Linked DNA regions of Homo sapiens. The protein of the gene in region 3 purifies or fractionates together with the protein of the main gene of each other region. This does not show direct contact. Each region holds a gene or a part of one and is shown on either strand. Other genes may lie near its edges.

Evidence for each region.
Region 1: the proteins of SUCLG1 (region 3) and LARS2 purify together in Homo sapiens (affinity purification with mass spectrometry; 2 studies listed by BioGRID and IntAct, with this or other methods). This does not show direct contact.
Region 2: the proteins of SUCLG1 (region 3) and NFU1 fractionate together in Homo sapiens (co-fractionation; one large-scale study listed by BioGRID). This does not show direct contact.

The regions. Positions count from the first base shown.
Region 1 is NC_000003.12:45,520,964-45,524,617, forward strand, and holds part of LARS2 (leucine--tRNA ligase, mitochondrial), read left to right. Parts: intron 1-3,033; coding exon 3,034-3,145; intron 3,146-3,654.
Region 2 is NC_000002.12:69,427,375-69,431,028, reverse strand, and holds part of NFU1 (NFU1 iron-sulfur cluster scaffold homolog, mitochondrial), read left to right. Parts: intron 1-3,654. UniProt on the Homo sapiens protein: Iron-sulfur cluster scaffold protein which can assemble [4Fe-4S] clusters and deliver them to target proteins.
Region 3 is NC_000002.12:84,449,212-84,452,865, reverse strand, and holds part of SUCLG1 (succinate--CoA ligase [ADP/GDP-forming] subunit alpha, mitochondrial precursor), read left to right. Parts: intron 1-3,113; coding exon 3,114-3,217; intron 3,218-3,654. UniProt on the Homo sapiens protein: Succinyl-CoA synthetase functions in the citric acid cycle (TCA), coupling the hydrolysis of succinyl-CoA to the synthesis of either ATP or GTP and thus represents the only step of substrate-level phosphorylation in the TCA.

The DNA.
Region 1 (3,654 bases), on a different chromosome or scaffold from region 3:
GATCACTTGAGGCCAGGAGTTCAAGACCTGCCTGGGCCGCGTAGAAAATAAAATAATTAGGCCAGGCATGGTGGCTCACACCTGTAATCCCAGCACTTTGGGAGGCTGAGGCAGGCGGATCACGAGGTCAGGAGATCAAGACCATCCTGGCTAACACAGTGAAACCCCATCTCTACTAAAAAATACAAAAAATTAGCCAGGCGTGGTGGCAGGCACCAGTAGTCCCAGCTACTCAGGAGGCTGAGGCAGGAGAATGGTGTGAACCCAGGTGGCGGAGCATGCAGTGAGCCAAGATCACGCCACTGCACTTCAGCCTGGGCGACAAAGCAAGACTCCGCCTCAAAAACAAAGTAAAAAAATAAAATAATTAGCCTGGCATGGTGGCATACAGCTGTAGCTGTAGCTACTCGGGAAGCTGAGGCGAGAGGATCGCTTGAACCCATCCTGGGCAACAGAGCAGGAGACTCTGTCTCTAAAAATAAAATTAAAAGGGTAATTTTTAAAAAGTAAAATAAAGATAAAAAAGAACAATGGAAGAAATTTCAAATTTGACTACATAAAACTTGACATTTTCAGTATGTTAAAAAAATTTATAACATGTCAGACAGAAGGTTAATATCCTTGTAAAGCACTCTTACATATTAATATGAAAATACCTAACCAAAAATGGTCAAAGCATATGAAAAGATAATAACTCATAGAAAATGTTATAGAAATAGCCAATACATTTGTGGAGAAAAAAAAGTCTGCCTCTCTAATTATCATGAAAGGCAAATTTAAAACAAGATGCTTTTGTTTTTGTTTTTGTTTTTTTTTAAATACCTGTCAAATTTGCTGAGAATACTTTAACGTAACTATTCAGGGCCAGGCACAGTGGCTCATGCCTGTAATTCCAGCACTTTGGGAGGCCGAGGCAGCAGGATCGATTGAGCTCAGGAGTTTGAGACCAGCCTGGGCAACATAACAAGACTTCATCTGTAAAAAATTTAAAAATTAGCCAAGTGTGGTGGCATGCACCTGTAGTTCTAGCTACTCAGGAGGCTGAGGCGGGAGGATCCCTTGAGCCCAGGAATTTGAGGTTGCAGTGAGCTGTTTGGTGCCACTGTACTCTAGCCTGGGTGACAAAGCGAGACTCTCTCTCAAAAAAATAAAAATAAAGGCATAATTATTCCCCATGCTATTGCAAAGATGGCAGAATAGACTTTTACACGCCAGTGATAGGTGTGGTTGGTGTAACCTTGCCAGGAAGCACTTCGGCTATCAGGTTGATTGTGTTATATCCTCTGATCCAGGAGTGTTCACTGCAGATAATTTATAATCACAGAGACTCGGAACCCCAGTGTCCTCTGATGGGGGAATTGTGAAATGACTTATGTCATATCAATAAGAAAGGAATGTGCCACCACCATTAACCTCATGTCTTGAAGAATACTTAATATCAGAAACTGTTTATGATATAATGTTAAGTAAAAACACATGACACAAGGCCAGGCACAGTGGCTCACGCCTGTAATCCCAGCACTGCGGGAGGTCAAGGCAGATAGATCGCTTGAGGTCAGGAGTTCAACACCAACCTGCTCAACATGGTGAAACCCTGTCTCTACTAAAAATACAAAAAATCAGCCAGGGTGTGGTGGTGCACACCTGTGCACCTGTAGTCCCAGGCACTCAGGAGGCTGAGGCAGGAGGATTGCTTAAACCTGTAGGCAGAGGTTGCAGTGAGCTGAGATCACACCACTGCACTCCAGCCTGGGCAACAGAGAGAGACTCTGTCTCAAAAAAAAAAGATACAAAAGTGTTCATATGAGCTGGGTGCAGTGGTTCACACATGTAATCCTAGCATTTTGGGAGGCCAGGGCAGGCAGATGGCTTGAGCCCAGGATTTCGAGACCAGCCTGAGCAATATAGTGAGATACCCCATCTCTATTTAAAAAAAAAATTAATTTTTAAAATTAAAAAAAAGGAAGTGTTCATATGGCAAGAATACCAATCCTGAAAATGTTACATGTGTAATAAGCATTTATATACACATTTTTGCATTTTTGGAGACAAGGATAAAATATACCTTTTTTTCTAGGTTGTATAATTATGAGTAGTTTTTCATTTCCTGTATATTCTGTGCTGAGTGTGTGTTAGTTTTTTAATCAGAAAAAATAAAGCAAGACACTGAAATGAAACTGTAATGAATTTCTGTCTTTCCATTCCGGAATTTGGGAAGTCCTTAATAATAACACACAGAGCTAAACACAACTATGTTTGCCGGAATTGACCAAAGGTATTTCAGAGAATAGGGGTCCCTAAGTAGGGTATAGAGGCCCCCCTGCCCTAGGTGTTTCACAGTTTAACACCTTTGAGCAGGTCTCAGTGCATTTCTCTGTGGACCTGCAGCACAGAGGAAACCTAGCAGAGTGGGTAAGAGTTTGGCTACAGTGTGCCTGGGGGCAGATTGCCCTCCCTTGCTGATCCTTAGCTGCTTCATCTGTCCAATGGGGTAAGAATACCACCCTCAAAGAGTGGTGAGGACTAAATAAGTTAACATCATGTATTTGTTGTTGCTGCTGCTGGAGCTTTTTTTTTTTTTTAAAGATAGGGTCTCACTGTTGCCCAAGCTTCAGTGCAGTGGTGCAGTCATAGCTCACTGCAGCCTTGACCTCCTGGTCTTAAGTGATCCTCCCACTTCAGCCTCCTAAGTAACTGGGACTATAGGTGTGTGCAACTGTGCCTGGCTAATTTTTTTTTATTTTTTAATTTTTCATAGAGATGAGGTCTCACTATAGTGCCCAGGCTGGTCTCAAATTCTTGGCCTCCCAAAGTAGTGGGAGTATAAGTGTCAGCTACCACACCTGGCTTGCTGTAGTTTATCTCAGTGCTATCATTAAGTAGGGGAAGTTCATTGTCCCAAGCAGAAATGGATGGCAAAGGGGGTTTCTTCCTACCAGCTTGTGTCTCTGGACTTCAGATACATTAATGGTCTTTCTTACCCGTGCTTATTTTTACACCTCAGTCTTCTTACTTTTTTTTCCTCTTCCTTAGCAAGCCTCTCAGAGCGTCATTCTCCACAGCCCCGAGTTTGAGGATGCTTTGTGTGCCCTGATGGTAATGGCTGCTCCACTGGCCCCTCATGTAACCTCAGAGATCTGGGCAGGTACGTGGCAGAGTCCTTTTTTGACCAGTTACTACTAACTAGAATTTGTCGAAGCCTCTTTTTGAACATCATTCGGGACTCAGATGTCCTCAGATATAGGGTCCAACATTTGGCATCTATACTCAGCAACCTCTCTGTCCTGTACTCTGAATGGTAGTACTTCATCCACATGGTCACCCCTACCAAAAGGAAAGACACTTCCCTGCTTTGAATAATGTGCCCAGACTAATGTGGGTGTTGATGTTACCATCTTAATCCCTTCTCGTGACTCAGCCCCCCAGTATCCACATATTATGACCTGCGTGGTCTTTTTAAGATAAAAACTCATGTTTAATACCACTGTACAGGTGGAAATTAAGTTATAGGTCTAAACTTACACTGTAATTCAGCACTCTTCACCAATTATTCCTAATCTAGGCATCAAAGCAGGCCTGACTGCCTGCTTGAATTTCAGCCCCTAGAACCCTCCACATCATTGGGACTGTTAGCCTGGACAAAACCAGGACTTC
Region 2 (3,654 bases), about 15 Mb from region 3:
TGATGACTGTAATGTAGAGTTAGGGAAGTTTAAGGGGAGAGGGTATGTGTGTCTGCATGTGTGTATGTATGTAAATGTATACCTATATGTGTTATGGAGCTGTAAGCATATAAATTCAGCCTCTCCTTTCCATTGCTAGCTTGAACACATTCCTGTGGCCATACTCTGGCTGATTCTGGCTAAGGGCGTGAGTTAAATCAGGGTAGACCTTACCCCTTCTGTAGCCAGGGGCCAGAAGAGGAACACTTTCCTGCAGGCTTGCCTGACTGCTTGGATCACAGAATAGCTTAGATATAAATATTGTAAATACTGAGTAACTCAGCTGATTAAACCACTTTAATTGGACTTTTAAACTTTGTAGGACTGAAATATGTGGTCATATAGGCTTTTCAAATAGGAAACCCATTAATTTTAGTCATTGATATTGACTTTAAGCACCACTAATCTGTATTTTGGGGGAGTTTACATCTACCTCCTTAGGTACCTATTAGTACCAAGCATAATAGGAAAAAATAGGCTGGCATGGTGGCTCATGCCTATAATCCCAACACTTTGAGAGGCTGAGGCGGGCAGATCCCTTGAGCCCAAGAAGTTCAAGACCAGCCTCAGCAACATGGTCAAACCCTGTCTTTACAAAAAAATACAAAAATTATCTGGGCTTGGTGGTGCATGCCTGTAGTCCCAGCTACTCAGGAGGCTGAGGTGGGAGAATCACTTGAGCCTAGGAGGTTGAGGCTGCAGTGAGCTGTAATCATGCCACTGCACTTCAGCCTGGGCAGCAGAGTGAGACACTGTCTCAAAAAAAAAAAAAGGAAGAAATATTTTTTATCATTCTGTCCTGTTTCCTGTTGTAAGTCTCATGACATTTTCATGAGCATCTTTCTGGATGATGGACCTGGGAGTCATTTTTGAAATACAAAATTAAACCCAATTGAGATTATAATTGTAATGATTTTGTTAAGTACCTATTCAAATTAGGTGTTTTTTTTTGTTTGTTTTTGAGGCAGGGTCTCACTATGTTGCCCAGGCTAAAGTGCAGTGATGTGATCTTGGCTCACTGTAACCTCCGCCTCCTGGGCTCCAGCCATCCTCCCACCTCAGTCTCCCAAGTAGCTGGTACTACAGGTGCGTACCAACACACCCAGCTAATTTTCGTATTTTTTGTAGAGACGAGGTTTCACTACATTACCTAGGCTGGTCTTGAACTCCAGAGCTCAAGTAACCTGCCTGGCTCAGCCTCCCAAAGTGCTGGGATTATAGGCGTGAGCCACCGTGCCCAGCCTGAATTAGTTTTTTAGTAATAGCTTTATTTATTGTCAACAGTAAAAAGTTCTGTGATGATGTCATTCATTTTCATACTTTCTACTTTAGATAGTATAGAGTATATGCTCTTAAGTGACTTTTTATTTTGCATTTGTAGTTTTTACCCTCAAGGATTTCTAAAAATTTTGCTTTCTGCAGGTGTAGTTTTTCTCAAATTGATTGAGTAGAATAAAGCCAGATTTTTTTTTTTTGTCTTGGCTCACTGCATTTTCTACTGCCTGGGCTCAAGCAGTCCTCTTGCCTTAGCCTCCTATGTAGCTGGAATTATAGGCACATGCCACCACAGCTGACCAATTTTTGTATTTTTTTGTAGAGACAGGATCTCTGTTGCCCAGGCTGGTCTCGAACTTCTGCCCTCAAGTGATCCTCCTGCCTTGGCCTCCCAAAGTGCTGGGATTATAGGTGTGAGCTGATGCACCCAGTTGAAGCCAGATTTAATTTTTCAAATATTGGTAGAGTACTGTGTGCAGATTTTGGTTAGCAATAAATTATTAATACAAGCTGCAAGAAATGATTGGTTCAGAGCCAGAGTTAGAAGATTATTTACAGAAAGTGTTGGCAGCCCTTTCTTTAATGTGTCATTGAAAAATCATTCCCTTATAACACAGATTTTCAGAAGAATGTCTTACTAGAAATATACATATTTTAAATGAAGTACTTGGACATTGCGGCTATTTTTTCATTTTTTAGGAATTGTCTGGTTGTCTAATTAGAAAAAGGATTTAAACAAAATGTATGGGAGTTCACTTTCAATTTTTTTCTTTATCCATGAAATGGTTTAACTTCAGCTAGCTGGAACTGCATGGCAAAGTACAAAAATGGCTCTCAGTTGTCAAATTAGAACTTTTTCTGTAATGACTAAGAAAAGCATTTTTGTACCAACCATATGTTTTGCCAAATTTAAACTCTTTCAAATTTAAAATAAAACTGTTGCTTTTTGATATTCTATTCTCTCTCCTAAAATAGGTGATGTGAAAATTAGGACAGGAAGATTGATCTTAAATGTATTTTCCTATTATGCCTGGCAATGTTAGATAAGGATTAGCAATATGTACGGTGGCTAAGAAAGTCAGCACCTAGAAAATTGTCCAGCTTTGAATCCTGGCTCTGTCACTTAGTAGCTGAGTGACCTTTAGTCTCCTTATTATAAAATAAGATAAAAATAGTAAGTATTGAAAGTACTCATTGAAAGTATGTAAGGATTAAATGATATAATACATGTAAAGTGCTTAGCACCCTGCCCAGTGCATGATAGGCACTGAATAATTTTTTTTTTTTTGAGACAGAGTCTCACTATGTCTCGCAGGCTGGAGTGCGTGGTGGCTGGATCTTGGCTCACTGCAACCTCCCTCTCCTGGGTTCAAGCAATTCTCCTGCATCAGCCTTCTAGGTAGCTGGGATTACAGGCGCACATCACCACACCTGGCTAATTTTTGTATTTTTAGTAGACACAGGGTTTTACCATGTTGACCAGGCTGTTCTCGAACTCCTGACCTCAGGTGATCCGCCTGCCTTGGCCTCCCAAAGTGCTGGGGATTATAGGCATAACCCACTGCGCCCGGCCAGGCACTGAATAAATTTTAATTGTTATATAGTATTGTCAGTCTATTTAAATATACTGCTGTAAGATGGAGGATTTCTTTTTACTCAGAAGGTTCATTTTCTTTTTTCTTTTTTCTTTTTGAGACAGAGTCTTGCTCTGTTGCCCAGGCTGGACTGTAATGGCGCAATCTTGGTTCACTGCAGCCTCCACCTCCCAGGTTCAAGTGATTGTCCTGCCTCAGCCTCCTAAGTAGCTGGGATTACAGGAGCGCACTACCACGCCTGGCTAATTTTTGTATTTTTACAAATACCTCTACAAAATAACCCTACCTCTACAAAACCCCTGTAGAGACGGGGTTTCACCATGTTGGCCAGGCTGGTCCTGAACTCCTGACCTCAGGTGATCTGCCCACCTCGGCCTTCCAAAGTGCTGGGATTACAGGTGTGAGCCACCACACCTGGCCTTTTTTTTTTTTTTTTTTTTGAGACTGAGTGTCACTCTGTCACCCAGGCTGGAGTGCAGTGGCACATTCTTGGCTCACTGCAAGCTCCGCCTCCCATGTTCAAGTGATTCTCCTGCCTCAGCCTCCCAAGTAGCTGGGACTACGGACGCACACTACCACGCCTGGCTGACGTTTGTGTTTATAGTAGAGATGGGTTTTCACCATGTTGGCTAGGCTGGTTTCAAACTCCTGACCTTGTGATCCACCTGCCTTTACCTCCCAAAGTGCTGAGATTACAGGCGTGAGCCACCATGCCTGGCCTTCTATTTTTTTTTGAGATGGAGTT
Region 3 (3,654 bases):
TCTTTTGGAGACCCTGTTTCTTGTCCTGGAATTCAGTGAAATGTTTCCCATAGACCTACTGTGTGTAAGGCACTGACCATATACCATAGGAGACAAGATGAGTAAGACATGGTCCTGACACTCATGGAGTTTACAGTTAGCAGTGGGAAAAGTATTTAGATGGTACTTGAAATAGTCTTGAAATAAATTTAAGCTTAGATAATTTCACTTAAAAATAACATGATGAAAAGAGTAAGAATATGTGTGCACTCAGTAATGTAGTGTGTGATGGTGTTTATTGTATACCCACATGAAAGCGTTTGTAGCTTCTATTCTTCTTAATCTCAGATCCCTTTTAAAGTCCCCCAGTATACTCATAAATCATGTATATCGTGTGAAGATATAGGAATTCTTGACTGTGTAATGTTTTATTTAAATGTTAATTTATATGGATCAATGTAAGTGAAATTCTCAGAAAGTTGAGGACATTAAATCTTTAATTGAAAGGTAAGAGATATTTGCAAGATGGTTTGGCCACCAATGTATGCCTTGTGTTCTAAATTTCACTTTAGGAAGTCACTTACTGTAGTAATTTGGTGGCTTTGTCACCCTCCCCACCTCTTACACATTCATAGACTTCTCTACCTTGAATAGGTGTGGGGAGTTTATCCACCCCAAATGCCCAAGGCTTTTTTTTTTTTTTATTATAGTACTTCACACACCACGCAGTTATGGCCCACTTTTATATGAGTTCAGATAGATTGTGAATTATTTGAGGGCTGAGACACTGTCATTCATCACTTTATCCTTGACACCTGACATTATGGCTTGGTATGGGTGCTCCTCAAATGTTGATTGAATCAATGAACGAACTCACATTTCAGTACCAGATGATAACCTTGTCTGGCATCATACAGGTTTATTGTCAGGATGGAATGTGATCAGGAATTTCACTTCCTTGCCATTGAATACATTTCTTGGATTTGCCTGTAAGACGATAATAGTCTGTTAGTTCCAGCTTATCTAGAAGTGGGTCTGTATGAGCCCAGGCCTGGTGTGTAGATGGGGAGATCACACATGCATGAGCGCACACACATCTACACCTGTGCATTAGAGGTTTCCCAAGATTTAGTTAATTAGATGCTGCAGGCTCTCAGGGGCATTGCACAGGCTGAGTAACACTAAAAGGCTAGGGGATTGGGAGGTAAGCTGCTGTTTATCACACTTCTGATACACTTTTTATGAGCACCAAAGATCTGATGTTGTAAAATCTTGAGCTCCATAGAATTGATCCAGGAGATCTGGAGTTACTACGAGAAAGCAGAGATCTTCGTTGGTCTGTTATTGGAGCTGTGCTTTAGGGACACAGACAGACCTGCCTTTTCTCAGGGTGACTTCTGCTCCTGTGGAAGGAGAAGTGAATTGTCTGATCTTTGTTAAGTTAGTGAGTATAAGAGTACTTGTGCAGAACCAAACTTTACCTACAAAAAGTATTTTATGTTAACAAGTAGGGACTCCAGATATCCTGATCATAACATCTGATCTTATAATCAAATCTTCTACCTTCTGGTCTGAAAACATATGGTATGATATGATATGATATGATATGAGCATTTGTTGAAGATGCAATGGGAGGGACTGGTAAAGCCAATTCCACTAGTCAGAAATTGTAGCAGGGTAGGAAAGGGTGTAGCTTCTACACAAATACCATGGTTGTAGGTGTTCAGCTGGGAGAAGTGGAAGCCAAGGGCAAGAATGGGTCTCGAATGCAGCACTGGCAAGGGTGGGCTGTGCTGCACAGCTCAGTAGGGACAGGGTCTCAGGCCATAAATCCCTGCTGTGTCCACTGGCCTAGAGTCAGATGCTTAGCTGTGACTGATGTGCCAGAACTTGACCTGCAAAGCCCATGGCCCCTTGTTGAGCACAGTCTAGTATGAGAAAGCTGCCTGTTACGTAGCAGTTCTTTGTGTGTACCAAATATTATCCAGGTGGTAAGGGCTAAATCTGGGCCTGTCTTCTCCCTAGAGGTGTAAGGGATTCCATATACTTCCTCCAGAAGCAGATGTTGTTGCTCTTTCAGTTATGTAATGTGAGGTCAGGACTTAGGTGGGTATGAGGCAGTGATTTAAGGCAGAAAGCATGGAGTGGACTCTGGGCAAATATGTGACAGGTGTTCTTTTTTTGTTGTTCAATAGAGATTACTCCTTATGTTCTTTTCTTGGGCTAGCTTCATGGGCTACCACAATGATAGGTAGAAGGCCTGGCTACTTTGAAAGGGCCAGGGATGGGCCACAGAGAAGTCAGGTTGTTAGTATTAATGGACATTTAGAAGGTAGCCCAAAATTTTAAGTCATCTATGTTCCTCCTACTGTGTTTTGAAATGTGGGGAGCTGGTTGTAGTAACTATTTAGATTTCTCAATTTCTCTTTTAGGTAGGTTGCTGCAATAACCTAGGGTTTTTTTTTTTTTTTTTTCCTAACAAGCTTTTTCCTGTCTTGTCTACTTTCCTATTTGTTTTATTTTCCCTGTGTCTTTTATACATGAGTTCATATCAGAAGAGATTAAGTGATTTTGTATTATATTTTAGATAAGTTTTATCCTATGACTTAACATTTAATATGTTGTTCTTACTAGAGAATGAGTTGCTGAGTGATTTTTACTTGTATTCCTGACAAAGTTTGCCTCTTAGCTTACCTATTTAAAGGTATTAGGCTTTAAAAATTTGGGTCAAGTGGGGAAACGTGGCTGTTTAGTAAACATTGTTAATAGGGGTGACATTTTGTTTTCAGTCCCTGGATTTAATTTTAACCATTTATCTTTGAGCCCCAGTTTTTTTCTAGGAAATAAAAATGATAAACATTGCTTTTTTTTCCCTCAGTTCAGGAAAAAACTACAAGATCGTGGTTCTTGATAAAGAGAGGATCCTGGAGAATGGAACAATGTCTTGTCTGTTTTTCTTATTTCTGTGGTCACTGTGTCTTATTTAAAAGGTGGCATTTAGGTTTGCCGTGATCACAGGATAGCGCGTGCATTAAAGAATTTTTTTTTTGTGATCAAGTTGAATTATTGTTCAAAAGTTTAGAAAAATTATAATGTGTCTTTTTTTTTTTTTTTTTTTTTTTTTAACCTCTTAGTGCCGCAGAATGGAATTCGGCATTGTTCCTACACAGCTTCTCGGCAACATCTCTATGTTGATAAAAATACAAAGATTATTTGCCAGGGTTTCACTGGCAAACAGGTATGTATATCTAGATTTTTATTTTCAAATGTAGACTAGAGATATAACAAATTAACTATTTTTTTATTTTTAATATCTCAAAAATAACACATGATTGTTGCAGAAAAATATACTGTACAGCAATGGGGTTGTATCTCAGGAGGAGGTTAGTTGCTATTGTCAGCCTATAACATAAAAATTGTGTTTAAACTTACCTTGCAAAGGAGTATATTGTATGCTTACTAGGAGTATATTGTTTTGGAGGCCCATACACTTTCTTTCAGCAAATACAACACTAATGATTTTCCTCCAGTGTTGAAAGAGATCACCGTTTCTTTGACTAAGCACTAGGTCAACTAGATTCTTGTGTTTAGGTTTTGTACAAACAGACAAAAAACCGTATTGTTAAACACAGAATCCATATTCAGTGTGGAGAAATGCTCAAACCCAGAGAGGCT